Homo sapiens: one gene and its partner. The protein of the gene in region 2 purifies or fractionates together with the protein of the main gene of each other region. This does not show direct contact. Each region holds a gene or a part of one and is shown on either strand. Other genes may lie near its edges.

Evidence for each region.
Region 1: the proteins of GLRX3 (region 2) and KLRG2 purify together in Homo sapiens (affinity purification with mass spectrometry; 4 studies listed by BioGRID and IntAct, with this or other methods). This does not show direct contact.

What each region holds. Positions count from the first base shown.
Region 1 is NC_000007.14:139,475,923-139,492,090, reverse strand, and holds the start of KLRG2 (killer cell lectin-like receptor subfamily G member 2), read left to right. Parts: upstream 1-8,417; 5' UTR 8,418-8,448; coding exon 8,449-9,205; intron 9,206-11,843; coding exon 11,844-11,945; intron 11,946-12,318; coding exon 12,319-12,464; intron 12,465-16,168.
Region 2 is NC_000010.11:130,133,930-130,150,003, reverse strand, and holds the start of GLRX3 (glutaredoxin-3), read right to left. Parts: upstream 13,614-16,074; 5' UTR 13,584-13,613; coding exon 13,492-13,583; intron 4,794-13,491; coding exon 4,685-4,793; intron 1-4,684. UniProt on the Homo sapiens protein: Together with BOLA2, acts as a cytosolic iron-sulfur (Fe-S) cluster assembly factor that facilitates [2Fe-2S] cluster insertion into a subset of cytosolic proteins.

The DNA of each region.
Region 1 (16,168 bases), on a different chromosome or scaffold from region 2:
ATTACTCAGTCTCAGAATACCTGGCAGGTATTCTGCTATAGCAACAGAAAATGGACTAAGACAGAAACTGAGGAGAGACTCCCAGCCACCTGCACATTAGTGGTGAAGGACCCCTGATACTTCCCAGGCCAGCTCTCCCTCCCATATTGGTTTAGGGTTTCAGTGTTAGGAGCCTGGCAGTGGGTGGCATGGGGCAGGCATGAGTCCCTTGCATCTCAGGGAATCAGAATATCTGGTGTCTCTCTATCTTGGGCAGTGCTAGAGAAACTTGCCAAATTCTTGTATTTGGGAGACCTTATATTCTACTCTTTTCTCCACTCCTCCCCACTTTTCCCTGAAAATGATTTCTTCATGGCTTTTTTTCCTGATTATAGAAATAATTACCACCTTTGTCTTAAAACACACATGAACACATAATAGCTGTTAATATATTTGATTAGACTACAATTTTCTACATTTAGTCATGACTTTCTGGTGGTGTATTCTAGGCCTTTGATTAGATTTTTGCAAGGCCTGTTTGATTTGGGGGATACTTAGGCCTCAAGACTCTTGGACTAGCAAATCTCATTCATAATGGGCTGATTTAGTTCAGAGGGGAAGAAGATACTATTATCCTTAAATCTGGGACCTCTTCACCAAGGTGCTCCTGGGCACTTGTACCTCCTCCCTTTGCTACCCTCAGTCTCTGGTGACAGGAGTCCCACACAGCCTGGCAGGAAAAGTCTGTTACACACCTGTGATGCAAGGAAGTGCTTTTCCTGGTCTCACATATCCAAGCCCAGCCCTACTCCATTGCTCCCCCAGGTCTCCTGGTCCTTCTACCTGCTCCCATCTAGGTCTTTCCAAGTATTGAACCCCAGACTCGACAAAGTCAGCTAACGCTGGGGACACTAATGCAGAGGAGAGCTAGGTCTGCCCCCCATATCCCTGAGCCACAGCTGTCTATCCACACCATTACAATCCCACAAGTGCTGCATTGGACAGGAAAGGATTCTGGGGATGGAGCTTCTAAAAGGGAGGGTTTTGTTTTGTTTTGTTTTTTCTTTTGAGACGGAGTCTCACTCTGTCACCCAGGCTGGAGTGCAGTGCCACAATCTCAGCTCACTGCAAACTCCACCTCCCGGGTTCAAGCGATTCTCCTGCCTCAGCTTCCTGAGTGGCTGAGATTATAGGCGCCTGCCACCACGCCCAGCCAATTTTTGTATTTTTAGTAGAGACGGAGTTTCACCATGTTGGTCAGGCTGGTCTCAAACTCCTGATCTCATGATCCAGTTTTTTTGTGTGTGTGTTTTGTTTTTTTGTTTGTTTGTTTTTGAGACGGAGTTTCGCTCTTGTTGCCCAGGCTCAAGTGCAATGGCATAATCTCAGCTCACTGCAACCTCCGCCTCCTGGGTTCAAGTGATTCTCCTGCCCCAGCCTCCCAAGTAGCTGAGATTACAGGTGCGTGCCACCAAGCCTGGCTAATTTTTGTATTTTTAGTAGAGATGGGGTTTCACCATGTTGGTCAGGCTGGTCTCAAACTCCTGACCTCATGTTCCTTTTTTTTTTTTTTTTTTTGAGATGGAGTTTCCCTCTTGTTGCCCAGGCTGGAGTGCAATGGCGTGATCTCAGCTCACTGCAACCTCCACCTCAAGGGAGGGCCTTTGTTTCAACACACAGATGTCTCAGGGAGCTGTTTTCCTGCTGGCCATGGCTCTTCTCCAATTCTCCCGGGATAAGCTTGTGTGTATTCAGGTGGAATGTTTTCTCAGTCCCTGCCTTACCCACACTCTTGACCTAAAGCTACCTTTTGTTCCTCCCCTAGAGCTGCCTAGCTCTCTCTCCTCTGCCTCGCCCAGCTGCAGGTGGATCCTCCACTAAAATGAGGCTGCCTCGTCACTCCCATTGGATGGCTGATGTCTCAGAAAGTTACAGGGGATGGGGGTCAGGGGTGCGGTGTGGCTGAAGGAACTGGAAAGTGAGGCCTAGTCTGTTAGTAACGGGAGCAACATCTATACCTCTGCCCCAGCCCATGACCTGCATGGACTCAATCAGCGGGAGACTGGGGATGAAACATTCGGGGAACCAGGAGGACTAGGGGAGCATAAAGCAGCAAAAGGGGAGAAAAGATGTGTTTGGGAGCCGGAGCTGCCCAATGACATGCTGGCTTTCCCACTTAGGAGCCGTGCACCCCTACACTAGCTCCTCAACCTCTCTGAATCTCAGTTTCCTCACCTGTGAAGTAGGGATTTTAGTTATTATGAAGAGTAAATGGACCCAACAGCCAAATGTCATGCTTGAACCCTGATGGGAACCTGGTTGGAAAAAAAATTAGAAAAATTTAAATTTGGTCTCCAAAATATCACCTGGCTCGGCGTTATTGTTCATTTCTTTGGTGTGAGAATGGCGTTGTACTTATGGAAAACACGTGTATTCTTCGCAGATGCACGCTGAAATATTGAAGGGTGAGGCTTCACGAGGTCGGCAGCTCACACTCAGATGGTTCCATAACAACAGAGAGAATGTTTGCACAGAGGTGGAGAGAAGGACAAGAACGATGTGTGAAATGCTAACTGTTGAATCAAGGTGGAGGGCGTTCACGTGATCACCATTTATTCTTTCCATTTTTCTTAATGTTTAAAAATGTGTCAACCAAAGATTGAGGGGGGGAAGAGAGACCAGGTGTGTGAAGCACTCTGCACAATGCCCCATTCAGCATAATTTATTTAATAAATATTCACTAAGCTCCTGGCGGAGATGTCAGTCAAGAACCAGGGATGGCGTGTCAGATACTGATCTGGGGATGCAGTGAGGATTTCTAGGGGGCCAGAGACAAGCATTAAAGGGTGAACAACCATGTGCACGTGCTGACCACAGACTGTGGAGAATGCTAGGAAGACAGCTGACAGGTGAGAGACCAAGGTGGGGGCTTAGGCGGTGTGAGGGGATGTCACACTGGCTTGGGTACCCTCTGAGCCTCTGAGCAGGTGGAATGTGAGCTGGGGATGGGCTGTGCCAGGGAGCTGGCTGTGCGGAAACCCCTCTCCTTCCTCATCTGTGTCTCCAGGGCCCCTAGAGGGGCCCAAGATGCCACGGGGATGACATCAGCCAAGAACCAGGAGTGGGAATGTTTGCCTCCTCTCTGGGGAATTAAGCTGCAATTTAATTTATGCTTGTAGAACTCAGTCTGTTCGGACAGACCAGATACCATCAGCCACCCTTGACCAGTGAACCTCATGGTGTGGGGCAGGAAAAATGATGAGGATTCCTGCAGGGCCACCTCCTGGAACCAGCCAGTGATTTGGAACTGGCATTAGAGGAAATGTTAGTGGTATTTCATCCAGGCCCTGACAGTGTCCAAGACACTTCTCAGTAGCACAACTAACAAATGAAAAGATGTTCAGCTTCATTCATAGTTAAAGAAATGCAAGCTGGAATTCAATATTTTTGCCCATCAGATTGGTAAGGACTAAGAAGATTGATGATACGGAGCGATGGGGCGGCCACGGGAACAGCCCTCGCATCCTTTGTTTGTTGAGCCTCTTGTGGGTAATTTAGCAGTACCCATCACATTCAAAATTCTGACCACCCTTTGGCTCAGCAATTTCATTTTAATGATTCTATTCTGAAGATATTTCAGAGATGTGATTTTTAAAAACAATATATACAAGTATGCTCACTGAATTATATCTATATCATGTTCAGCATTACAGTAATTATGTCACCCAAATGGAAACAACTCAAACGTCCATCAGGAGACTTCTTAAATAAATTACATATAGGAAAACATTTAATATGAGTGAAGTTTTGGAAATAAAGATATTTATATATATAATAACAGTACAGGTTAGTGTATACATTTGTTTAAAAATCTTGAAGACTGCATACCAAAATGTTAATAACAGAAATCTCTGGAGCATAGAAAACAGGGGACCTTTCTTTTCTACAGTATGCACTTCTGTAATATCTATATTTTGTATTGCAGACATACATTGCTGTTGCAAGCAGAAAACAGGATTTTAAAGTGAGGGAAAGGGAGAAAAGGATGAAAGGAAGGATCACGGTAGATATTTGTTCTTTTTTGCCAGCCAACATCTGAACCCCCTTGAAACATTTGGGTAATTCACCTATCTTAGGATGTCTCAATTTAGAAGTTGTAAATGGCCTTCTGGTGCCAGGCTGCTGTGCTGTGTCACAGGAGGTATAGAGAGACTCCATCGAAGCCTGGCCCTCACCCCAAGACAGACGTGGAGCCCAGTGAGACTTGGGTTTTCGGCCACTTGCAATCAGTTCCTCCTTCCTTCCTTCCTTTTATCTACCTTCCCTTCCCTCCCCCTTCCCTTCCCCCTCCCCTTCACCTTCACCTTCACCTTCACCTTCACCTTACCCTTACCCTTACCCTCCCCTCCCCCTTCCCCTTCACCTCACCCTTCCCTTCCCCTTCCCCTTTGTCTTCCCCTTTCCTTCCCTCCTCTCCCCTTTACTCTCTTTCTCTCCTTCCTTTCTTTTTGTGAGACAGGATCTCACTCTGTTGCCCAGGCTGGAGTGCAGTGGCACAATCACAGCTCACTGCAGCCTCAAACTCCCAGGCTCAAACAATCCTCCCGCCTCAGCCTCTCTAGTAGCTGAGACCACAGGTGCATGCCACTGCACCCAGCTAACTTTTTGCTTTTTTAGTAAAGACAAAGTCTCCCTATGCTGCCCAGATTCAAACTCCTGGGCTCAAGTGATCCTCCTGCCTTGGCCTCCCAACGTGCTGGGATTACAGGTGTGAGTCACCATGCCTGACCCAGAGTCTTAAATGATAAGGCAAAAAGTGGAGGAGGTATGAGAAGGATACTCAGGGTCTCGTGAAATCCACAGAATTGAACAAACAAGCTTTAGGAAGGGCTGAGATCGGACAAACTCTGGGGCCCAGAGCAGGAGTTTCTGGGCTTTCTCTCTAGGGAGCTGCCCTACTAGGAGCTCTGACAACACTCGGCTCTGGGTCTCTCATATCTAGTGTCAAATTCCTGCAAAGAAGAACCTAAGCTCAGGAGAAAGATCTGGGCTTGAAGGTCACTGACGTATGGTGGGTGAGAAGCTCTGCAGCAATTTTCAAAGGAACAGCCAGGAAGGCAGAAGGAGAGCTGGTAGAGGTGGTGTCAGGAAGCCCACAGGCCACAGATGAGTGGGTTTTTGAGAGGAGGAAGAAATGATCATAATGTCAAAACCTGAGAGATAAAACGAGCACTGAAGAGCATCTGCAGGCCGGGCACAGTAACTCACACCTGTAAGCCCAGCACTTTGGGAGGCCGAGGCGAGAAGATGGCTTAAGGCCAGGAGTTCAAGACTAGCCTGGGCAACATAGCGAGACTCCTCCATCCTTATAATATATATAAAATATAACATATATATATATATATATCTTTTTTTTCCAAAAATGGAAAAAAAGCATTTGCTGGGTTTGGTGACTTGTACCCTTGCCAAGGAAAATTTTGGCAGACAGATGGGGGCAATTACCTTGTTAAAAAAGGTTGGTCATGGCCCGGTGTGGTGGCTCACGCCTGTAATCCCAGCACTTTGGGAGGTTGAAGCGGGCAGATCACCTGAGGTCAGGAGTTCAAGACCCTGTCTCTACTAAAAATACAAAAATTAAGCGGTTGTGATGGTGCACACCTATAATCCCAGCTACTTGGGAGGCTGAGGCACGAGAATTGCTTGAACCCAGGAGGCCATGGTTGTAGTGAGCCGAGATCACGCCACTGCACTCCAGCCTAGGTGACAGAACAAGACTCTCTTTCAAAAAAAAAAAAAAAGTTTGGCCACGACAAGGAAGAATAGAGAGGGTGTTAGCAGGAGGAGGGTACTGGGCCCAAAGAGGCATTTAAAACTTGAACATGTTGAGTGATGCCCTTGACTGATGAGGAATGAGCAGAAGCCTCGTAGTGGTGGAGAAGGACCCTTTGGTGAAGCTTTCCCAGGTGATTTTCTGCTAAAGTTTTGGCTTTCTCAAAACACTCTCATAGTAAGCAGATGTTATTGCTCTTTTGCCCTCTAGAAAGCCAACAAGCAAAATGCCTTGAGCATCCCAAAAAACTGTTGCTGTGACTTCTGCTCTTGACCTGTCCACTTTTGCTGTGACTGGGCCACTTCCACCTCTTGGGAGCCATTGCTTTGTGCTTTGTCTTCAGGATCCTACTGGTAAAGCCACGTTCCATCTTCTGTTACAACTCTTCAGAGAAATGCTTCAGGATCTTGATCCTACTCGTTTTAAATTTCCATTGAAAGTTCTGCTCTTGGCTGCAGCTGATCTGGACGCAATGGTTTTCCATAGAGTGGAAACTTTGCTCAACTTTAATTTTTCAGTCAGAAAAGTGTAAGCTGAACCAATTGAGACGTCTTTGGTGTTGGCTGTTGTTTGTGCTGTTAATCGTTGGTCCTCTTCATGAGGGCACAAATAAGATTAATTATTTTACTCAAAAATTGATGTGGATGGTCTGCCACTGAGGGCTTTATCCTCAACATTGTCTCATCCCTTCTCTTTTTTTTTTTTTTTGAGATGGAGTCTCCTTCTGTCACCCAGGCTGGAGTACAGTGGCACAATCTCGGCTCACTGCAAACTCTGCCTCCCGAGTTCAAGCAATTCTCCTGCCTCAGCCTCCCGAGTAGCTAGGATTACAGGCACCCACTACCACGCCCGGCTAATTTTTTGTATTTTCAGGCACCCGAGTAGCTGAGACTACAGGCGCATGCCACCATGCCAGCTAATTTTTTGTATTTTAGTAGAGACGGGGTTTCACTGTGTTGCCCAGGCTGGTCTTGAACTCTTGAGCTCAGTCAATCCGCCCACCTCGGCCTCCCAAAGTGCTGGGATTACAGGCGTGAGCTGCCGCGCCCAGCTTAATTTTTGCTTTTTTAGTAGAGACAGGATTTCAGCATGTTGGCCAGGCTGGTCTCGAACTCCTTACCTCAAGTGATCCACCTGCCTCGGCCTCCCAAAGTGCTGGGATTACAGGCTGAGCCACCACGCCTGGCCTCATCCCTTCTTAAAACGAGTTTTCCATTTGCAAACTGCTGGTTTCTTGGGGGCATTGTCCCCATGAGCTTTTCATAAAAATATCAATGATGTCACCATAAATGTGATGATTATTCTTGCTTCAAATTTAGCAGAATCCTTGTTGCTCTGACAGGAGCTCTTTTCAAACTGATGTCTTATCCTTCTTAGTGCCTCAAACTAGATCTTGTCGAGACATGTGATAACAAGTTAGTACAAATTTATTTTGGTGCCAAAAAATTTTCAAATCCATGCATAGTTTTTTTCATAGTATGAATTTTCCATGAACCTTTTGAAGACCGCTTGTATAGAAAAAAACAGTATATATAGGGTTTGGTGCTATCCAAAGTTTCAGGCATTCACTGGGAGGTCTTGGAACTATCCCAGTGGATAAGGGAGGACTACTATGCTAAAAACTATCCCTTGTTTAACTGAAATTCAAATTAAACTGAGTGGCCTGCATTTTATCTGCCAACCCTACCCTGGGGGCACTTAAAAATACCAGAGGCCAGGCGGGGCGCGGTGGCTCACGCCTGTAACCCCAGCACTTTGGGAGGCCGAGGCGGGCAGATCACGAGGTCAGGAGATCGAGACCATCCTGGCCAACATGGTGAAACCCCGTCTCTACTAAAAATACAAAAATTAGCCGGGCGTGGTGGGGTGGGTGCCTGTAGTCCCAGCTACTCACGAGGCTGAGGCAGGAGAATCGCTTGAACCTGGGAGGCGGAGATTGCAGTGAGCCGAGATCGGGCCACTGCACTCCAGCCTGGCGACAGAGCAAGACTCCGTCTCAAAAAAAAAAAAAAAAAGAAGAATTGCTTATCCACGCCCTGTTTCTTTTCTCTTAGCGTTACTCAGTGGGGGAGTCCTCCCAAGTATGATGGAGAGTCCTTTCGAAACCCTGCTGGATTGTCAGGACAACCAACTGGGCTACTTTTCCACAGGTCGCCCCAATTCCTTTGGATTCTGATTTCTCTGAGGTCCCAGGATCCAGACAGGCTTGGCCAATCCTTCCCCGCCCAAACTGTAACTCTCAAAACCAACACCCCGGCATAGGGCTGGAGGGGAAAATGGGTGAGGTCAGAGACAAAGAAGAGGGAAGGGTCAGGCGGGGCTCCGGGTTCCCTGCCACAAGCCTCCGCTGGTGTTCTGCTTTTCTCCCGAGAGCTCCCGCCCACCCTGCAACCCTCGCCTGGCCCCGCTGCCGTTCTCAGCTCCCTCCCAGTGCCTGGTGGAGGCCGGGGCTGTGTCCCGAAGGGGGTCGGGGCAGCAGAACCTCAGCCACAGCCAATCACAGCGGGGTCCTTCGGGGAGGGGCGTGGCCTGACAACTTCGGCGACGCGGCTGGACCAATCCGGACGGAGGAGAGCGAAGCTCCTCTGCACTGGGCCCAGGTGCGCTCCTCAGCGTCTCCGGGTGGCGGGGCGCGCGGGATGGAGGAGTCTTGGGAGGCTGCGCCCGGAGGCCAAGCCGGGGCAGAGCTCCCAATGGAGCCCGTGGGAAGCCTGGTCCCCACGCTGGAGCAGCCGCAGGTGCCCGCGAAGGTGCGACAACCTGAAGGTCCCGAAAGCAGCCCAAGTCCGGCCGGGGCCGTGGAGAAGGCGGCGGGCGCAGGCCTGGAGCCCTCGAGCAAGAAAAAGCCGCCTTCGCCTCGCCCCGGGTCCCCGCGCGTGCCGCCGCTCAGCCTGGGCTACGGGGTCTGCCCCGAGCCGCCGTCACCGGGCCCTGCCTTGGTCAAGCTGCCCCGGAATGGCGAGGCGCCCGGGGCTGAGCCTGCGCCCAGCGCCTGGGCGCCCATGGAGCTGCAGGTAGATGTGCGCGTGAAGCCCGTGGGCGCGGCCGGTGGCAGCAGCACGCCATCGCCCAGGCCCTCCACGCGCTTCCTCAAGGTGCCGGTGCCCGAGTCCCCTGCCTTCTCCCGCCACGCGGACCCGGCGCACCAGCTCCTGCTGCGCGCACCATCCCAGGGCGGCACGTGGGGCCGCCGCTCGCCGCTGGCTGCAGCCCGGACGGAGAGCGGCTGCGACGCAGAGGGCCGGGCCAGCCCCGCGGAAGGAAGCGCCGGCTCCCCGGGCTCCCCCACGTGCTGCCGCTGCAAGGAGCTGGGGCTGGAGAAGGAGGATGCGGCGCTGTTGCCCCGCGCGGGGTTGGACGGCGACGAGAAGCTGCCCCGGGCCGTAACGCTTACGGGTGAGTGCTCACCTGCGCCGGCAGCCGACGCCGCCAGGTCGGGTGGACGTAGCCGAAACCCCCACACCCGCCCAGCCCTGGACCGCTGGGCAGCTGACCGACTAAGGGACCCAGTTGGCCATCCCGATCCCCAACCCGATCTGGCCTCTCGGGCTTACAATCAATAACATTCCTGTCTACGTAACTGTAATTCACATTGTTGCCGTGTCTCACGCCTGTAATCCCAGCACTTTGGGAAGCCGAGGCGGGCGGATCACCTGAGGTCAGGAGTTCGAGACCAGCCTGACCAATATGATGAAACCCCGTCTCTACTAAAAATACAAAAATTAGCCTGGCATGGTGGCATTCACCTGTAATCCCAGCTACTCAGGAGGCTGAGACAGGAGAGTCGCTTGAACCCGAGAAGCGGAGGTTGCAGTGGGCCGAGATCATGCCATTGTACTCCAGCCTGGGCAACAAGAGAGAAACTCCGTCTCAAAAAAAAAAGAGTAAAGCCACTCCCCTTCTCATCCTCCCCTACCCGCACTCCCGAACTTTCAAATTCCCTCTTAGCATGCGCAGCACCTTTGAGAAGTAGCAGTGGAAGGAACTCCAGATGAGGGGAAGTCATTCAGGATCAGGTGGCAGGGGTGGCAGCCCAGATCCCCCCATCCCTGCACTGCCAAGGACTTTCTGGAAGGTCCAGGCTGCTGCTTTCTTTCCACCACACTGAGGAACATTTAGCCCCAAACACTCATCCATTCAGTAGATAGTGAGTGGGACCACAGGGTAGATGTGCCAGTAGTATGTGCGGCTGGTTATTTTGTGGTGTGGGGGAGGGGGAGCTTGACACAGAAGAAAGAGCCCACAAAAGATACAGACTGTCCTGGATAAGGAGACTGGAGGGAGTAGTTGGTGAATTTGGGGCAAGAGATAGCCAATTTTTTTCTTTTTTTCTTTTTTCTTTCTTTTTTTTTTAAGAAATAAGTTTTGCGCTTGTCACCCAGGCTGGAGTGCAATGGCACAATCTCGGCTCACTGCAACCTTCGCCTCCTGGATTCAAGCGATTCTCCTGCCTCAGCCTCCTCCCGAGTAGCTGGGATTACAGGCGCCGGCCACCATGCCTGGCTAGTTTTTGTATTTTTGGTAGACAGGGGGTTTCATCATGTTGGCCAGGCTGGTCTGGAACTCCTGACCTCAGGTGATCCAGCCGCCTCAGCCTCCCAAAGTGCTGGGATTACAGGTGTGAACCACCGGGCCAGCCAGAAAGCCACATCTTGAAAGGTGAGTAGGAGTAGGGGGTGCTAGGGATCCCTGCTAGGTAGAGAGACTGGAAGGAGCAACGGCCAGGAGGGGTCAGAGCCCCGCCCAGCAGGCAAACTGGCAAAAGCTTGGCTGATTGAGAAGCAGGCCAAGCCCACTGACAGGCACCAAATTCCCAGGGCCTCTAGTTGAGAGGTTCTTAGACAGGGCTAGGGTTCAGGGGCTTGGATCACTCAGGAACTTTTGCAGAGTTTGATGTGAGCACATTTTCTGTGTGATGGAATATTAGTTTTCTATTGCTGTTGTAACAAATTACCACAAACTTAGTGTCTTTAAGTGACACAAATGTATTATCTTACAGTTCCGTTAAGTCAGAAGTCTATAATGCCGGCTCACTGGTCTAAAATCGAGTTTTCAGTGGGGCTGCATTCCTTTCTGGGGGTCTAGGGGAGACTCCCTTTTCTTGCCTTTGCTAGCTTCTGGGCTTTTCTTAGGTCAAGCCCTTCTCTATATTAAAATCCAGCGTTGTTGGTAGAGTCCTCCTGCTGCCACTTCTGATGCTCACCACCTGTCTTCCTCTTCCACATATAAGGCTCCTGAAGCTGGGCACGGTGGCTCACGCCTGTAATCCCAGCACTTTGGGAGGCCAAGGCGGGCGGATCACTTAGGGTCAGGAGTTCAAGACCAGCCTGACCAACATCGTCAAACCCCATCTCTACTAAAGATATGAAAATTAGCCAGGCATGGTGGCAGTCACCTGTAATCCCAGCTACTTGGGAGGCTAAGGCATGAGAATTGCTTGAACCCAGGAGGTGGAGGTTGCAGTGAGCTGAGATCATGCCACTGCACTCCAGCCTGGGCGATAGAAAGACTCAGTCTCAAAAAAAAAAAAAAAAAAGGGCCAGACGCGTTGGCTCACACCTGTAATCCCAGCACTTTGGGAGGCCGAGGTGGGCAGATCACAAGGTCAGGAGTTCAAGACCAACCTGGCCAACATGGTGAAACCCCGTCTCTACTAAAAATACAAAAAATTAGCCGGGCATGGTGGCACGCACCTGTAACCCCAGCTACTCAGGAGGTTGAGGCAGGAGAATTGCTTGAACCCGGGAGGCAGAGGTTGCAGTGAGCCGAGATCGCACCACTGCACTCCAACCTGGGCGACAAAGCAAGACTCTGTCTCCAAAAAAAAAAAAAAAAAAAAAAAGAATATCTGGCTTCTTTCTCCAGAATATAAAGTTGGAACTTAAACGTTGTGGTTTATGTTGGCATCCCAGGCTGAGGGGGTGGGTGCTGGGGTGAGGTGGGTGAGATGCTGGTGTGCTGTGTCTGTGGTTCTGAGTTGGGTTGGTTGGGATGGTCTCCACTAATCTGATTATCCTGTTTGCCCCCGTCCCAGGGCTACCCATGTACGTGAAGTCCCTGTACTGGGCCCTGGCGTTCATGGCTGTGCTCCTGGCAGTCTCTGGGGTTGTCATTGTGGTCCTGGCCTCAAGAGCAGGTATGGTGTCCCTGCAGTCCCCATCCCCTCTCCCTGCCGCTCCACTACTGGGGCTGTGTTTCCAGCCCTTAAAACACCTTAGAATTAGAAAGAGACACTGGGAGATGCAACACGAAGACATGGTGCTTGATGAGCAAAGTTAAGGAAAATGGGTGCCTTCCTCCCACTGGATACAGCTTGTGCCCTGATAAGCAATCAGATGCCAGCTGCCACCCCGGGGACTTTGTGCACTGCACAGACTATAAAAGCTCCCTGGGGCCCTGCCCACCTTGAGGTTTGCCAGTTCCATGCCCCTTCATTTGAGGCAGCAGCCAGGCTTTGTTTATTTAATGCAGCTTACCCTGCAGCTCACCAGCAGTCTCTGTGCTTGCAGGAGCCAGATGCCAGCAGTGCCCCCCAGGCTGGGTGTTGTCCGAGGAGCACTGTTACTACTTCTCTGCAGAAGCGCAGGCCTGGGAAGCCAGCCAGGCTTTCTGCTCAGCCTACCACGCTACCCTCCCCCTGCTAAGCCACACCCAGGTGAGAAGGGGGTGTCCAATCTAAGGGGGTACAGATCTTTCTAGACCACAGAATCCTAGCACTGGAAAGAAGCTTAATGATTGAGTCCAGCTCTTCATTATAGAAATCACCAAGGTGTAGAGGAGTAGCATGACCATAACTTCGTGCAGCCTCTAACTCCTGTGCTCAGGCAATCCTCCTGCCTCAGCCTTTTGGGTAGCTACAGGCATGTGCCACCATGCCCAGCTTTAAAAAAAATTTTTTTTTGGCCAGGCACAGTGGCTCACACCTGTAATCCCAGCACTCTGGGAGGCCAAGGCAGGCGGATCACAAGGTCAGGAGTTCTAGACCAGTCTGACCAACACAGTGAAACCCTGTCTCTACCAAAAATACAAAAATTAGCCGGACATGGTGGCGGGCGCCTGTAATCCCAGCTATTTAGGAGGCTGAGGCAGGAGAATTGCTTGAACCTGGGAGGCAGAGGTTGCAGTGAGCCGAGATCACTCCACTGCACTCCAGCCTGGGCAACAGAGCAAGGCTCCGTCTCAAAATAAATAAATAAATAAAAATAAAAATAATTTTTTTTTAAGGGACAGGGTCTCACGATGTTGGCCAGGCTGGTTCAAACTTCTGGCCTCAAGTGATCCTCCTTCCTTAGCCTCCCAAAGTGCTGGAATTACAGGCCATGAGCCACTGCGCACAGCCAAGCACTTATGTTTTTAATCGTTGGTCTCTGGGTCATCTTTTGATAGGCTGGGCTTGGCTGGACAGCTCAGCTTTATAATGCAGATTGCCAGGGCTTGGTTTGAGGCTGCAGGTTGGGTCTGTGTAGAATATTCCATCCCCATGGGAGAGGGAGAGGAGTGGATGTTTGCTGAATAGTAATCCAGTCAGTGGGTTTGAGAGCATCTACAAAAAGGGACCAATAGATAGGATCCAGTCCTTGGCATAATTTTGTTTTCCTTTTTTATTTATTTATGTGTTGTGTCTCACTCTGTTGCCCAGGCTGGAGTGCAGTGGCATAATCTCGGCTCACTGCAACCTTCACCTCCCGGGTTGAAGGGATTCTCTTGCCTCAGCCTCCCAAGTAGCTGGGATTACAGGCATGTGCCAGCACACCTGGCTAATTTTTGTATTTTTAGTAGAGATGGGGTTTCTCCATGTTGGTCAGGCTGGTCTCAAAATCCCCACCTCAGGTAATCCGCCCGCCTCGGCCTCCCAAAGTGCTGGGATTACAGGTGTGAGCCACTGCGTCCAGTGTTGTCCTTTTTTTTTTTTTTTTTGAAACAGGTCCTCACTCTGTTGCCCAGGCTGAGTACAGTAGTGCAGTCATGGCTTACTGCAGCCTTGAACTCCCAGGCTCAAGCAATCCTCCCACCTCAGCCTCCTGAATAGCAAGGACTACAGTCATGTGCCACCACAACTGGCTAATTTATTTTTTGTAGAGACACAAGTCTTGCTATGTTGCCCAGGCTGGTCTTAAACTCCTGGACTCAAGCGATCCTCCCACTTCGGCCTCTCAAAGTGCTGGGATTACAGGTGTGAGCCACTGTGCCTGGCTTTTTTTTTTCCCCATTTAAAAAAATTGTGGGCCGGGCACAGTGGCTCACGCCTGTAATCCCAGCACTTTGGGAGGCCGAGGCGGGTGGATCACAAGGTCAGGAGATCGAGACCATCTTGGCTAACACGGTGAAACCCCGTCTCTACTAAAAATACAAAACATTAGCCGGGCGCGGTGGCGGGCGCCTGTAGTCCCAGCTACTCCAGAGGCTGAGGCAGGAGAATGGCATGAACCTGGGAGGCGGAGCTTGCAGTGAGCCGAGATTGTGCCACTGCAATCCGGCCTGGGCTAAAGAGCGGGACTCCGTCTCAAAAAAAAAAAAATTGTGTTAAAATACACATAACATAAAATTTACCATCCTAGCCATTTTAAGTGTACAGCTGAGTGATATTAAATACATTCATAATGTTGAGCACCTATCACCACCATCCATCTCCTGAACTCTTTTCGTCTTGTACAACTGAAACTCTAACCCCTCTAAACACTGATTCCCCATTTCCCCCGCCCCCAATCCCTGGCAGCCACCAAGCTGCCTTTTCTCTCTCTCTCTTTGGTTTGAACTATTCTAAGAACCTCATACAAGTGGAATCGCACAGTATTTGTCTTGTTGTGACTGGCTTATTTCACTTAGTATCATGTCCTCAAGGCTCACCCGTGTCGTAGCCTGTATGAGAATTCCCTTCCTTTTTAAGGCTGAATAATACTCCATTGTGTGTATGCACCACATTTTGCTTATTTGTTCACCGGTCAGTGGACAGACCCTTGGGTTGCTTCCATGTTTGGGTTGTTGTGAATAATGCAGCTATGAATTTGGGTGGACAAATATCTCTTCGAGACCCTGTTTTCAGTTCTTAGAGTATATACCCAGAAGTGAGAATTGCTGGATCATATGGTAATCCTATTTTTAATTTTTTGAGGAATTGCCATACTGTTTTCCATAGGGGCTGTGCAATTTTACATTCCCAGCAATCCTTGGCTTAATTTTACCTGGGGGCAGGTGCCAGGAATTTATATTCGCTGTTCTGGTATGTATGAAAACGCAGCACTCCTTCCGTCAGTGCTTTAATGAGTGTGTATTAAGCACTTACTCCGTGTTTGGCAAGGGGGATTCAATAATGAGCCAGAATAGCACAGCCCCCACCTTGACAAAGCTAAGACAGCAGTGAGTGAGGCAGACGTCAATCAGGAAATCACAGAAATAGATGTTTAATGACCACACTGATCTGTGCTGTGAAGGGACGGTGCACAGTGCTACGAGAGTAAATGACAGGAGGGTGTGACCTGAAGGTCAAGGTGAGCAAGGCAGCATGTGCCTTTCCAAAAACATTCAAGAAAAGATAGTGAGGCCGGGTGCAGTGGATCACACCTGTAATCCCAGCACTTTGGGAGCCTGAGGAGGCAGGAGGATCACCTGCAGTCGGGAGTTCAAGACCAGCCTGGCCAACCTGGTGAAACCCCGTCTCTACTAAAAATACAAAAATTAGCCAGGCATGGTGGCATGCACCTGTAGTCCCCACTACTTGGGAGGCTGAGGCATGGGAATCGCTTGAACCCAGAAGACAGGATGCAGTGAGCCAAGATCGCGCCACTGCTCTCCAGCCTGGGTAACAGAGTGAGACTCTGTCTCAAGGAAAAAAAAAAAAGATAGTGACACCGGGCCAGAGAGCCTTCTGGAATCCTCTCTTCTCTGTTCCAGTCTGGACCTGTTGCTCACCAGGCCTGCTGCACAGCTGTTCTGGAATTTCTATTTACCTGCATCCTCAGTATGCCTTTTGCCTCCCTCCTCCGTGGGATTCCCTGTTTCCTAGGTCGCATGTCTTTTCGTTGGTTTCACCTCAGTCTCCTCAGTGGAGTCAGAGTTTTGCCACCTTGCCCAGGCTTGTCTCAAACTCCTGGACTCAGGCGATCCGCCTGCCTCAGCCTCCCTAAGTGCTGGGATTACAGACATGAGCCACCGTGCCTGGCCTCAATTTCTTGAGACCTTTCGTGCTTAAAGAACTTTTATTCTAACCTCCAAGCTAACAATCACTTGGCTGGTGTGTAGGAAAAACACTCAAACTGTCTTTCCTCTGCTCTTACACAACAACAATCAACCCAGAAAGCGTCTGTGACCAAATGTGTTTTTTTTTTTTCTCTTACCCACGAAGCAGTGGGCACCAGCTGG
Region 2 (16,074 bases):
GCCTCCCAAAGTGCTGGGATTACAAGCGTGAGCCACCATGCCCGGCCCTATTTTTTTTTTTTTTTTTTTACTAATGAAAACCTGATGAGGTAAAGGTCCCCATGTCAAGTATCTCACCATCTAGTCAAGGAGGCAATGAAAAAAGGAATTAAATGACAATATAGACAAAAATATAGGGCATTTCCTGATCCAAGCAACCAATGGCACAGAGACCAAAAAAAAAAAAGCTACAGGAAAAAATAGCTACGATTTCATACAAAATAGTTGATTTGGATCTCAAATACAACCAGCAGCAGGCACCCAACAAAGCCTTGTGCTATTCTTCCTCTCTCCCACCCCCCTCTGCCAGATACCATATTTTGGAAGATTATATCAAACAATTAATTAAATGACAAAGGTGTACTCCTATTTTGGGTAAAGATACAAACAAGAATCAGTATGAGAGAAGATACTGACTATGTAATTTGAAAATAAAAGGCACTAAAACATTTTAACTATTTCATTTTATTCTGAATAAACACAAGGTTTCTCTAAGACTTTTCCTGTTTTGTTTTTTTTTTTTGAGACGGAGTCTTGCTCTGTCACGCAGGCCGGAGTGCAGTAGCGCGATCTCGGGTCACTGCAACCTCCACCTCCTGGGTTGAAATGATTCTCCTGCCTCGGCCTCCCGAGTAGCTGGGATTACAGGCATGCGCCATCATGCCTGGCTAAATTCTGTATTTTTAGTGGAGACAGGGTTTCACCATGTTACTCAAGCTGGTCTTGAACTCCTTTTAGTGATAGAAATACCACATCATCTCCTCTGGGCCCTAGGAGGTGTGACAAACTCAGGACGGAGCCCAGAAGAGCCCACTAGACATGGCAGTGACTCAGGTAAATGGAACACCACCCATTATAAACACAGCACCCAAAAGGAGTACAGATGCACTTTTTAATTTTTTTTTAAGAGACAAGGTCTCACTCTGTCACCCAAGCTGGAGTATAGTGGCACAATCATAGCTCACTGCAGCCTCTAACTCCTGGACTTAAGCAATCCTCCCACCACAGCCTCCCAAGTAGCTGGGGCAACAGGTGTACACAGCTAGTTTTTTAAATTTTTATTCTGTAGAGATGAAGTCTCCCTATGTTGCCCAGGCTGGTCTCGAACTCCTGTCCTTGAACAATCCTCCCACTCACACCTCCCAAAGTGCTGGGATTACAGGTGTGAGCCACTGTGCCCCACCCCAAATACACTTTACGACCATATCATCAATACAGAGAATGAGGGATTCAGATGCAATAAATATGAAAACCTTGTCTTTCAGCATTCAATTCCAAAGAGCACAAACTAACTACTCTGACCAAAAATGGGTGACTAACTCTTCTAACTCTATTTTTACCAGCTCCTACAAAATAAGAAATTGTTGATAGTCACAAAAGTTTACAATCTGTTTAAAAATATCTAGTGTATGATCACTTATTTAATGATTTTATAAATCCCAGTCACAAAAATGAACTGATCCCTTTACTTCACAAGCCAAAAATGCCAAACCATTTCATCATTAAAAAAAAAAAAAAAAAAAAAAAAAAAGACTGAAGGGCAAAGTGGCTCACATCTATAATCTGAGCACTTTGGGAGGCCAAGGTAGGCAGACTGCTTGAGCCCATGAGTTCAAGACCAGCCTGAGCAACATGGTGAAACCGTATCGCTACAAAAAATACAAAAATTAGCTGGGCAGGGGTGTACACCTATAGTCCCAGCTATTCGGGAGGCTAAGGTGGAGAAATTGCTTGAGCCTGGGAGGTAGAGGCTGCAGTGAGCCAAGATCACTGCACTACAGCCTGGGCAATAAGAGTGAGACCTTGTCTCCAAAAAAAAGACTAAGAAATCAAATAGACACAAGATGAAGCAGAAGAACATTAGTTCATACTCTAGAACTTTCCAAAAACTCTCATTAACAAAAAGAAAGCTGTTTTAAAATGAACTACATTCCTCCTTTTTTTTGAGACATGGTATCACTCTACGTCCAGTGGTGTGACCGCCTTGAGACCTCCTGGGCTCAAGGAATCCTCTGCTTTATCCTCCCAAGTAACTGGGACTACAGGTGCACACCAACATGCACAGCTAACTTTTTTAGTTTTTCTTTTGTAGAGATGGTTTTGCTATGTGCATCAGGCTGGTTTTGAATTCCTGGCCTCAAGCAATCCTCCCACCTCAGCCTCAAGAGGTGTTGGGATTACAGGTGTGAGCCGAGGCGCCCAGCCTGCACGCCTCTCTTACTGGGAAAGAACGATGATCTCTCATTCTACTTCTCTTTTGCTTACTATTGTCCGGCAAGTGCCTTTTAATTAGCTGCCTTACAAATGCCATGGAAAGTACCTTTGCCCTTAATGATGGCTAATCAAAGAAAAACTATGTTATAGAGTGAATTTCTGGAAAGTGATGACTCCTGGAAGAATGACCAATCTTACGCTGTCATCATCCTCATGAGTGGCAGGTGCAGTCAGGCTCAGGTATCCCCCACAACCCAAAATCGCTGAGGGCTCCTCCAACCTTTGGCTCACAGAGATACTTAAGCACTTGAACAACTTAAAATCTCACTGCCAAGTCTGGTACCAATGTGAGAAGTAATTCTATAGTCACTTTAAATAAATCATTCAGATAGCAGCTAAGAACAATGTGTTACCTAAACCAGTAACATGATACACATAAAAGCAGACTTAGAACAATTACCATCATCTTGATTAATCTTATGATTGAAATGTTTAATCATTCATTTCACTTGTAATCATTATCTTTTATCACTGACCAAACATGCAGTTTTAATGCCCCCTTCTATTATTTATATTGGACATTTTAGGGTTACACTCTACAGTTACATTATACATTTCATTGGAATTTTAAATAAGTCCTTAAATTTTAAAAAGCTAATCACTATATTCACATCTGCCCTATTTGCATAAAGAAACACTAGAAGGATTCATACAAAATTAATACAAGCAGTTACTTATGTGGTGGGACACAAGGGTGACAACAGAGGAACGGGGTGGGCCTTCTCAACGGACATCTTTCTACACTGTTTGGAATTTTGAGCCAACTGAGTATAATGCCTATTCAAAGCAAACTTATTTATACAGAAGCCTCCTGAAAATTTTATCACCTACTATACGAATGAATTACCCTGTCAAAATTCTGTGTTTTCAGTTTACATAGAAAGAGGCATACAGACCAATACAGTTGATGTTATTTTTAATCCCATATATGAGTATATTGGGTAACATGTACTCTGAACTCACAGATTCTTGTTTTAAAAAATAAGACTTTGGTTTTTCATTTGTTTTTTAAATCTTAAGGATTCAGGCTTGGGAATACAAGGTGCACCTCCCCTCCTGATAATTCATTTCTAAGACTCTCAACACATATTTTGGCCCTGCTGCCTAAACCAGTACTAAGTCCTGAATAATATCTTTAACGTGCTAAACCAATTGAGTTAATCCACAGTCAAAACTACAGCTTTCCTAGCACTCATCCACTCAAGAGAGACAGCAGGAATGTAGGAGTACACATAACCAGAGTGAAAAACAAAAGAGGCAAGGAAGAGACTGACTGGCTTCCATCTTCCTCTACATTCTGAACAGGTTAGAAAGACTTTCACCTTCTCCCGGAGGTCTGCCTTCATCTAAACCAAGATAGCAACTTCCTGTTCCCTGGTCCCTAGCAGCATTTACATACCCCTTCCTGAATTATTTTCTACAGCACACCTAGCTTTTCAATGACATAATTTGTGTTACTATTTTAAATGCCTTAAAACCACAGTTACCCACAGGGAACTAATTTGTCTGCCTGTGCTCTCCAAAACTCCAGCCCACAGCCACCTTGACATTTGGTAGTCATGCCTCACACCCGAGGATGATCAAGGAAAAGTGTACATTTGGCCAGGCGTGGTGGCTCACGCCTAATCACAGTACTTTGGGAGGCCAAGGTGAGCAGATCACGAGGTCAAGAGACCAAGACTATCCTGGCTAAGATGGTGAAACCCCATCTCTACTAAAAATACAAAAAATTAGCTGGGTGTGGTGGCATGTGCCTGTAGTCCCAGCTACTCGGGAGGCTTAGGCAGGAAAATCGCTTAAACCGGGGAGGCAGAGGTTGCAGTGAGCTGGAGCTGCACTCCAGCCTGGGCGACAGAACAAGACTCTGTCTCAAAAAAAAAAAAAATGCAAAATTATTTTAAGATTTTTAAGAATGATGTGCAAAAATAACAGATCCCACACCAATTATACATATTTGGAATTCCATACCACTCCATCTTTATATTAGTTAATAAAATCTAATTTTTTATTTTATTTATTTATTTATTTAGAGACAGCGTCTCGCTCTGTCACCCAGGCTGGAGTGCAGTGGCACAATCTCGGCTCACTGCAATCTCTGCCTCCCGGGTTCAAAAGATTCTCCTGCCTCAGCCTCCCACATAGCTGGGATTATAGGCACCCGCCACCACGCCCAGCTAATTTTTGTATTTTAGTAGAGACAGGGTTTCACTATGTTGGCTGGGCTGGTCTCAAACTACTGAACTCAGGTGATCTGCCCGCCTCAGCCTCCCAAAGTGCTGGGATTACAGGTGTGAGCTACCGCACCCAGCCCTAATCTAACCCATAAATCAGAATTAAATTCACAAAAGACATGACATTGAAATATAAATACCTTCACAAATGAAACTTGAGGGAGTTCTTTAGCTAACTCTGCCATAACTTCGTTCATCTGTGCACACTGTGGAGCCCATGGTGCCCAGAAATGGACCACAAGGAGGGACCTGTAAATCAATTAAATGCATTTATTTAAAATTATACCAATTTTGGAAATACACAAATACTGATATAAATTACCAAAAAGAAAAAAAAGAAAGCTTTAAAAGAACCGTCTGAAGTTTTTCATATTGCTAGAATTTTGTTGTATACAACACTGGAACATAAAAGCACTCTGCAAGGTCTTGAGACTCTTTCAGATAAATTTTCAATTCAATGATATTTCAAGTGAAGCCCATTTGAAGTAGATCTGAATATTCATCCACCTCAATTAAAAGTCATGTAAATCACTGTTGGTGGGAGTGTAAATTAGTTCAACCATTGTGGAAGACAGTGTGGCAATTCCTCAAGGATCTAGAACCAGAAATACCATTTGACCCAGCAATCCCATTACTGGGTATATACCCAAAAGATTATAAATCATTCTACTATAAAGACACATGCACACATTATGTTATTGCAGCACTATTTACAATATCAAAGACTTGGAACCAACCCAAATGCCTGTCAATGACAGACTGGATAAAGGAAATGTGGCACATATATACCATGGAATACTATGCAGTCATAAAAAGGAATGAGTTCATGTCCTTTGCAGGGACATGGATGAAGCTGGAAGCCACCATTCTCAGTAAACTAACACAGGAACAGAAAAACAAACATTGCATGTTCTCATTCATAAGTGGGAGGTGAACAATGAAACCACACGGACACAGGGAGGGGAACATCACATACCAGGGCCTGTCAGGGGGTGGGGGGCAAGGGGAGAGAAAGCATTAGGACAAATACCTAATGCATGCAGGGCTTAAAACCTAGATGATGGGTTGATAGGTGCAGCAAACCACCATGGCACATGCATACCTATGTAAGAAACCTGCACATTCTGCATATGTATCCCAGAACTTAAAGTAAACGAAAAAAAAAAAAAAAAAGCCAGGCAAATCAACCATATTTTCAGACCCCTGGGCAAAGTGGAAACTGAATTTCTGTATTAATGGCACAATGTTTGTGAAAAATGGTTGTAGACACATTACTAATAATATCATTATTTACTTTTTAAATGTGGTATAGTGATGGAGAGACATAACCGTGACCATAGAAACAGCAGTAAGTGTTGAAAATGAAGGCATGCCAGTGCAAAACGAGGAAAAGAATAGAACTGCTTTTCACAAAGACTTTTTTTTATACTTTTTAATATTATGCTACAAAAGATTTTTCTAGACCCAGAGCAGTGGCTCACACCTGTAATCCCAGCACTTTGGGAGGCCGAGGCAGGCAGATCACTTGAGGTCGGCAGTTCGAGACCAGCCTGGCTAATGTGGTGAAACCCCAACTCTACTAAAAGCACAAAAAATTAGCCGGGTGTGTTGGTGCATGCCTGTAATCCCAGCTACTCAGGAGGCTGAGGCAGAAGAATTGTTTGAACCCAGAAGGCAGAGGTTACAGTGAGCTGAGATCACACCACTGCACTGCAGCCTGGATGGCAGAGCAAGACTCTGCCTCAAAAAAAAAAAAAAGATTTTTCTAGGCCAGGCAAGGTGGCTCATGCCTGTACTCAGCATTCTGGCAGACTAAGGTGGAAGGATTACTTGAGCCCAGGGGGTCGAGGCTGTAGTGAGCCATGATCATACCACTACACTCCAGTGTGGGCAACAGAGCAAGACCCATTTAAAAAAAAAAAATTCTAAACATTTATAGTATGAACACACAGAATATATTAATAACTCAGTATCTATTTTAGTTAGTTTTCACACAAAATTATCTTGGCAAAGATATCTATGGTCATATCCAACTAAAAAATCCTTCAGTTTTATGGAATTCTGTTCAAATATAATACCACCTCCCAAAAAAATCTGAAAAATCACGAACAGAAATATGTTCCATGGCAAAAAGAACCAAGGACAACTAACCTATGGGTAAGGAAAGGAATAACAAACTGTAAAAACTGATCAAATAATACCAGCGAGAAGAGAATAAGCCTACAATAAAGTGTCAGGAAAGCAGAAGCAAAGAGCAGCATGAGGATTTCGAAGGTAGAAGGGGCAGGATTTGGTGACAGATAAGGCAGTCTACAGCTGGCTCCAAGTTCTGGCTTAGAGACTGATGGCTAGTGGTGGCACTATGCCTCAAATCATAGTGCAGAAGCTGCCAACCTGAGGAAAGGAAGTTTAATGGGTTGTTAGTATGATGTCTAGAGCTCAGGGAAGAAGTCTGCACCTGATATACAGATTTGGGAATCAAGAAAGGAACAGTGCCAGCACCACACCGCAAAGGGTTACAGAGGGACACAGAGGAGACCCGAGGTCAGCGCCTCAGGGGGCTTATCAACATTAAGTTAGGACAGATGGAGGAGAAGGAACTTATGTAGTAAAGCAGAGAAGGGGTCCTAGGCGGTACTGGAAGATTAAGGGGTCCTAGGCGGTACTGGAAGATTGAAGGGTCACATAGAAGTCAAGAGAAGAGTGTCAAGAGGGAGTGACAATCATCCAATGCAACAGGAAAGGGCAACTAACAGAGAGAGTACCTTCAATGGAATAGCAGAAGCACAGGTCAGACTGCAGTCCACTGAGGACTGAAGTGAAGATGAGGAAGCAGAGATGTACTCTAAGAGATCTGTACAGGCAGAGAAAAAGACAAAATCAAGGGATGGGCCTTTTTAATACAAGAAAATCCTTATATGTTTATTTTACTAGGGGATAGTGCAAATGGAGAGGGAAGGGCCGTAGACACAAGACAGCTGAGGATGCAAGGACTCAGAAGAGGCAGGAGAGGGGAAATCCAGAGCAGAGAAGAGCTTACCTTGAAGAAGAAGAAGGCAGTCTCCTCTGAGTCAGGAGCCAAGGAATTAAGAATGGGTAAGGCTACAAATAAATGGTAAGTGTTGGGAGAGGTGAGAGTGGAAGGAGGGCTTGGGGAGATGCTACCTGAAATCCTGTTTTCTCTCAGGTGGGAAGCAAGGTCATTTATCAAAGCATAGGAAAACAGAGGGCAAGACCACTGGTAGGACTGATGAAGGGAGAGTGTCCACAGGCACACAAGGAAAGCAGGAAGCTCCAAATGAAGACCCACCTAAGGCAGGGAAGGACACATTGTAGGAGCCCCTAGTCACCGGATGTTAATTTGCATCCAGCACAACTCAGCAGCTTCAATGGTTGAGTAGGTGGGGCCTCAGGTCCACGGCAGAGACTGTGCTGTTTCAATCAAGCACTGTTTCATCTTCCTCCTGTGCATTCAGCTAGATTACATTTTTCAGTCTTCCTTGCAGTTGTCTGGGGCCCTGGAACTGAATTCTGGCCCTAAAACTAGAACACAGGCCTGACCCCTCAAAACCCTCCCTCAGGAGCCTCTGCCCACCATAGCCTCCAGCAATGAAGAGGATCCAGGGAAGCTTTTTTGTCCATTGCCTAAGGATGGCAAGAACAAAACAGAGGTTCACAGAGGCCTCATGCAAGAATGCTCACAGCAGCCCTATACATAATAAATCAAAACTGGAAATTAGCCAAATGTCCGCCAACAGGAGAAAGTGATAGACATTCATACAACAGAATGTAACTTACCAGTAAAAAGGAACCAACCACAGACATGAGCAATGACACAAATGAAGCTTGAAAATATGTGAGCAAAAGATAACACAGACAAAGAACTGTATGATTCTACTCACACAAAGTCCAAGAGCAGGGAAAACTCATCTACAGTGACAGTAAGAAATCAGTAGCTGGGCTAAAGGGGATGGAAAACTTCCTGGGTTCTATATTCTTCCTGTGAATGGTGGTTATCGGTGTGTATACAATTGTGAAAATTCACCACATCTGACGATTAAGATCTGTGCATTGTTACTGTATGTAATACTTCAATTTCTTTTTAAAGCTGGGATACCATTTTCCACCAAATTGACCAAAAAAAAAATTTTTTTTTTCTTTTTTTGAGACAGGGTCTTACTCTAATGCCCAGTCTGGAGTGCAAGGCAAGTGCAGCCTCGACTTCCTGGGCTCAGGTGATCCTCCCACCTCAGCCTCCCAGACTACAGGCATATTTTGTTCTTTGTAAAGTTGGGCTTTGGCCAATGACCAGGCTGGTCTCAAACTCCTGGGCTCAAGCAATCAATCTGCCTGCATTCGCCTCTCAAAGTGCTGGGATTACAGTCATGAGCCACCGTGCCCAGCCAACAAAAGGACTGTTTAAATCATAATATTCAATGATAAAAAGGATGACGAGAAGTACTTTCATGTCCTGCTGGTAAAAATTAAATTGGGACCTTTCAGAAATTTCTTACACATAAGTATCAATCCTAAGGAAGTAATTAAGAGACAAAGATTTTCTGTACATGGATATTTTCCCACTACTTTACGTAGCAAATCAGAAAAATTTCTGATGCTCAATAATAGTTTTTAAATGGTCATAAGAAAACATAAAGCCATTACAAATCAAATTTTCAAAGAACTTTCAACGCCACAGGAAAATACTAATATAACTACATTTTTCAAAAATTAAAGTAGGTTACCAAACTTTATAATAGTATGAGCCCAAATAAGTAAAAAAGAAAAGAAGAAAGTATGCCATAGAAACTGAATTCATTTCAGTTTCATTATTACTAACATGGTTTTGAAGAGTAATTTAACTTCCACATCTGTAAAACAGCAATAACCAACACTCTGGGATGTTGAGAAGATGAAACAAAAATATAAAACATTTGAAAACATTAAAACATGATATTGTTAGTTGAAATTATCCACAATATTCTCCTATTTAATGCTTACCTTCCATTTCTCAATTAAGCACATAATGTCCAATATTATAAGGACATACTATATCTGAAACAAATATAAACGTTATCCCCTTTTGGATTACATGTTACAGTATTCTTTCCATCTTAATGGATAGCCCCATATGCCTGGAGCATTGTTGGAGAAAAACCATCAGACAAAAACCACATTCAAATCCTGACTAATGTAACTTTAGACAATGTAATAAACTTCAGCTCTTCATCAGCAAATAGTTGTTTTTCAATTATTATAGTATTCTGCTACTACATTCATCTGCAGATACCAGCTACTGCTTATTAAACATATCATATACTAAACCTGCTTACTCTGCAAATGGATATTAATAACCCCATTGTACAAACCAGCTGAGATTTCAGCAACTTATGTAAATATCTGATTCAACTACTTAAAAGAAAAAAATTTCAATTCATGTCAAATTTTAAAATTGGAGAAGCGATGATTTGGAAAGTAGATTTAAAATTATTACATCAACACAAGTACTAAAATTCGGGCACTTTTTGTTTTTTGAGACAGGGTCTCACTCTGTCACCCAGGCTGGAGTACAGTGGCAGGATCATAGCTCACCGCAGCTTGGAACTCCTGGGCTCAAACAATCCTCCCACCTCAGCCTCCTGAGTAGCTGGGGACTACAGGCATGCATCACCATGCCTGGCTACTTTTTTTATTTTTTGTAGAGATGGGTTCTATGTTGTTCAAGCTACTCTCAAACTCCTGGCCTCAAGCCATCCTCCCAAAGTGCTGGGTTTGCTGGTGTAAGCCACCATGATATTCTTTTTTTGGTTTTTTTTTTTTTGAGATGGAGTCTTCGTCTGTCGTCCAGGCTGGAGTGCAGTGCCACGATCTTGGCTCACTGCAAGCTCCGCCTCCCAGGTTCATGCCATTCGCCTGCCTCAGCTTCCCGAGTAACTGGGACTACAGGCACCTGCCACCATGCCTGGCTAATTTTTTGTATTTTCTTTAGTAAAGACGGGGTTTCACCGTGTTAGCCAGGATGGTCTCGATCTCCTGACCTCGTGATCCACCCACCTCGGCCTCCCAAAGTGCTGGGATTACAGGCGTGAGCCACCGCGCCCGGCCTAATATTCTTAAATGTCTCCATCTTCACCAAAAAAGCTGCAGAAATGTGCTCCTTCCCCAGATGCCACACATCATTTATCACGTGTCCGTTTGAACTAGTCACTAAGGAAAGTGCACATTGTTTCCTGGGCCATTTCAAGTACAGGCCAGCGGCAAGGATACAACATCCAAATGGTACTTACATTTAAACTTTTATCCATTTTGGCCGGGCGCAGTGGCTCATGCCTGTAATCCCAGCACGCTGGGAAGCGGGCCCATCACCTAAGGTCAGGAGTTCAAGACCAGCCTGGCCAACATGGTGAAACCCATCTCTACTAAAAATGCAAAAATTAGCCAGGCGTGGTGGCGGGCACCTGTAATCCCAGCTACTCAGAAGGCTGAGGCAGGAGAATCATTTGAACCCGTGAGGCAGAGGTTGCAGTGAGCCAAGATTGTGTCACTGCACTCTACTCCAGCCTGGGCAACAGAGAGAGACTCTGTCTCCCCCCCAAAAAAAAAAAAAAAAAAAAACACTTTTATTCATTTTGATAGTTTAAGGACTTTTTAAAACATGAAGCATTTAAAACAAACATGTAAAACAGACAAAACAGCCTTTCAGGTGATGGTAAATTCAAAACGTTTACTTAGGGCAGGTCCACACAAGACCTGCTCATTTCAAGAGGCCACTTCTGGTGACTCCTGTGATTGTGCTGATCTGTACTGGATGAGTCAGAGCCCAGCTTCCATCAGTGAGTAAATGTCACATGTCCCTCCCCAACCCCTGCTTTTTTCCGTAACAATTTCCCAGGTAAACCTGAAATGCCTAAAGAGCTGTTTAAATAACACTTTAATTTCATCACCCCCATAAAGCATTTCTAACCATTAGTCAGTAACTCGCACCCCTCCCCATTTCCAAAGGCAACACCCCATCTCACCTGCACTCTCCATTGCAAAATCAGAGTACTACTTGCCTCTAATTCAAATTCAGTCGGCAAAATTTCACTCAATTTAGATCAACAGGGCAGGTCACGGGGGCTCAAGCCTGTAATCCCGATACTTTACAAGGCCGAGGCAGGCGAATCACTTGAGCTCAGGAGTTCCAGAGACCAGCCTGGGCAACATGAGGAAACCCTGCCTCTACGAAAAATACACAAATTAGCCCAGCGTGGTGGACCGCACGTGTAGTCCCAGATACTCAGGAGGCTGAGGTGGGAGGATCGCTTGAACCCAGGAGGTAGAGGCTGCAGTGAGCCGAGATCACGCCACTGCACTCAGCCTGGGCAACAGAGCAACAGCCTGTCTCGAAAACAAACAAAACAAAATTTAGATCAATAAGCATTTCTGGCCGGACGTGGTAGCTCACACCTGTAATCCCAACCCTTTGGGAGGCTGAGGAGGGCAGATCGCTCGAGTCCAGAAGGTCGAGACGAGGCTGGGCAACATGGCGAGACCTCGTCTCTATAAAAAAAAATAAAAATTAGACGGGCGTGGTGGTGAGCACCTGTGGTCCCAGCTACTCGGGAGGATGAGGTGGGTCGATCACTTGAGCCTGGGAGGCGGAGGCTGCAGGGAGCCGTGATCGCTCCACTACACTGCAGCCTGGGTGACAGAGCCAGACCCTGTCTCAAAAACAAAACAAAACAAAGCTTTTTGCCTGTGAATTCCATGAACCATTCTACTTCCTACTGAAATACTAAGTGCCAACATCTACTGAGTGCTTCCTGCATACTAGGCATTGTATTATTTGTATTTTACATACGTCATCTCATTTAACCCTCACAACAACCCTGAGGTACTAACAGGTGCTAATCTATGTCACCGTCGGGAAACTGAGGCTTGGGCATGAAACGTGCCCAGGGGTTACATGGCTACTGAGTGGCTGCGGTGGGACTGGATCCCAGGCAATCCGACATAAGAGTTCCCATAACAACCGCTAATAATACAACTAAGAGAACAACTCAGTCCTTGGAGTAGTCTACAATGTGAGGTGGTATTATCACGGAGAGTCCACGTGCAGACCTTTCCCTGCAGGCACGCACGCTAGTAAGCATTTACTCGTAAGCATGCTTGCAGTTCAGAGCTTCTAGTCCACCCAGAAAACGCTTTCTATGCATTCCTCTGGATCTCCTTTTGTAGTCTTCCCAGGGATTGAAGACCTGGACACCGGCGCCAAATCTGAACAGACTCTCACTACACCAGTTCATGGAACAGGAAATCTCTGTCTCCGGCAACAGGTTAAGTCTGAAGACTGAGGCTACCTGCTGTCCAACAAACTTTAAAGGCTGACTTCAAAAGGCAGCCAGGCCTAGCTAATGCAACGGGGCCTTCCCTCGCCGCTCTTCCTGCGACAGGGGCGTTCCTGAAGGGAGGCTGAAGAGCAATGGGCCGACGCCGAGCCTGCCGCTCCCTCCCGGCGGGCACAGGAAAGGTGGAGCCCGCAGCCGTGGGTCCCGCTCCGTGGCGCGGAGGGCCGGGGTCTCGGCGCCGCCCCGTCCCCCGCCCCGCCACTGCGGCACGGCTGAGTCACCACCGCCTCCGTCCCGCGGCGGGGCCGCCCAGGCCAGAGGCCGGGAAGGTCGCGTCCCCCGGGCTTGGACAGCCGTCGGGGTCGGAGCCAGGGCTGGGGCCGGGGCTTCCAGGCGAGCCTCGCGCCCTGCTCGCTGTTCCGGGGCGGGGAACCTGCGGCTCGGGCCACTCACGCGGAGGCTCGGGGGAGTCTACGGGTGGCGCCGGGCCCGGTCCCCCGAGGCCGAAGGGAGCCGGGCACCAAGAAGCCAGGCTGGGCCACCCGCCGCCCCACACCGGCCCGGTCTCGCGGCCGCTCCCGCTCCGGCTCCTCACTCCTACCGCTCGCCGCCCCGCTTACTTGGCTTTGAGGCGCAGCAGCTCCTCAAACTGCCCGGCTGAGCCGACCTCCTCCACGGCCGCTACAGCTGCCTCAGCCGCCCCCGCCGCCATGCTGCCGCCGCCAGACAGAAGCAATCCAGTGCCGGCGGCCGGATGTGGGCGGGGCCACGGGGAGCTGAGCGGCTGCGCGAGGGAAAGCCCCGCCCCTGCCTGCGCTGAGGCTGCCGAGCCTGAGAAATCCCAAAAGGGGCCTCGGCGGCGGGCTCTGGATCCCGCTGGGGGGCTCTGACCCTGCCAAGTCTGGGCACTCCGCTGCGGGCCTCCTGGCTCCCGGGGTTCATGGCTGTTATGGTTCCTGGCTGTCGGGGCTCCTGGCTTTCGGGGCTCCCTGGCTGAAGGGGCTCCTGGCTGTAGGGGCTCCTGGCTATGGAGGTTCCCGGTTATAAGGGCTTCTGGATGTAGTGGATTCTGGCCGTCGAGGTCCCTGGCTGTCGGGGCTCCTGGCCGTAATGGCCCCTGGCTGTCGGGACCCCTGGGTGTCGGGGTTCCTGGCTGTCGGGACCCCTGGGTGTCGGGGTTCCTGACTGTAGGGGCTCCTGGGTGTTAGGGTTCCTGGCTATAGCAGGGGCTCCTGGGTGTCGGGGTTCCTTGCTGTCAGGGCTCCTGGTGGTAGAGGCTTCTTGCTGTTGGCTTCCTGGCTGTCGGGGTGACTGGGTGTCAGGGCTCCTGGTGTTAGGGTTCCTGGCTTCCTGGCTGTAGTAGGGGCTCCTGGGTGTCGGGGTTCCTTGCTGTCAGGGCTCCTGGTGGTAGAGGCTTCTGGCTGTTGGGGTTCCTGGGTGCCAGGGCTCCTGGGTGTCAGGGTTCCTGGCTGTCAGGACACCTGACTCCTGAGGCTCCTGGCTTTTGGGGCTCCAGACCTTCCTTGCACTTCCTGTGTCTCCTGGGTCTGTAATAGAAGGGGCCGGTGGAGGGGTGGGGGTGAGACATGTGAGTGAAAGTGAAGTCAGATGTGTACATTTAGGAAGCTGAAATTATCAAAAATGAAATTGCATAAAGGTGAGGAAGAACTGGGAGGTCTGGGAACAGAAGTGGTAGATCTTGAACTTCAACACAGACAGGGTGCTTCCAATTCAGTCCTGGGACCTGAACCCGGAGCCCACAGCATGTCCCTCCTCCCCTGGCCCTCCGCGCGTGCCGCCACTCATTGCAGCCCCACAGAGCCATCACCCATTGTAACCTCAGAACAGAAGGGGCTGGGTGGGTCCACAGATCCCTGCACTCCTCCCGTCTTGCCTCCTTGGATGATCCCTGGCTTGTCTTTCTCCCTTGGGAATCCCCCTGATGTTGGCTCTCCATGTGGTGTACTCTGTACCCCACACCCCATGCTTCCCACACACCTTCTGGCCTGAGTAATCTCCATGCCCCCAGTGACATCAACCTCCAGGGAAACCTCAATAGCAAGCCCAGAACCCTCCCCTGCATCCCAGAGCCTAGCATCCACTAACTTTGAGGAGGGGCCATCTTTTATTGGATATCCCCAAACCACACTGGGCCTTCCCTCCAAAGTGCCTCTCCTCTTGGTTCCCATCTCAGGGAACACCATCGCTCCCACCCAGACACTTGGGGCTCCTTCTGACTGGTCCCCCTGCTGTCCCTGGGCTTTGAGGCCAAGCCCCCACAGAGCCTTCCCTACTAGCCAGGTGTTCCCAGGCCTCCTTTGCTTGCTTCTACCGTGGCCTGTCTCATGTTGTAGAACTGTGCTTGTCCTCCATTGGCCTGTGTTCTTAAAGGGCAGGAGCTGATCTGTGTCTCAGTGCCTGGATCAGAGTCAGACACATAGGAGGTACTCAGTCCATGCTAACAGCTGCCAGAGGACTGGGCTCACTGGATTGCAAAGACTTCGTACGAGAAAAGTAGCATATCATTCATACTTTTTATATTGATTACATGTTGAAATGAGGATATTTGGATATATTCGGTTTTCTGAAATATATTATTTAAATTGGTCTCTTTTACCTTTGGCTCCTGAGAAATGTCTAATTTCATAGGCAACTTTCATTCGTGGCCCTTGAATTTTCTTGGGCAGCACTACTGTGGTGTTTAAAAGCCTTTTGGAGCCTGTCACATGTATACCTCACCTGGAGAAATACATGGTATTGAACACGGTAAATTGTGTTATTTAAAATGCAACAGGAGAGTGATGAGGAACCATTTTGTATCTTGCCTGTGGTGGTGAGAACACAAACTAAACATGATAAAATTGTATAGAACTTGGCTGGGTGCTCTGACTCACACCTGTAATCCCAACAATTTGGAAACCCCAGACAGGAGGATCACTTGAGCCGAGGAGTTGGAGACCAGCCGGGCAACATAGGAAGACCCGGTCTCTACAAAAATATATATATATATATGAGTCAGGCATGGTGGCTCACACTTGTGGGCCCAGGTAGGTGAGAGGCTGAGGTGAGAAGATCACTTGAGCCTGGGAGTTGGAGGCTGCAGTGAGCCATGATCCTGCCACTGCTACTGCCCACTAACCTGGGCGACAGAGCAAGACCCTGTCTCAAAAACAAAAACAACGCACACACACACACACACGCAT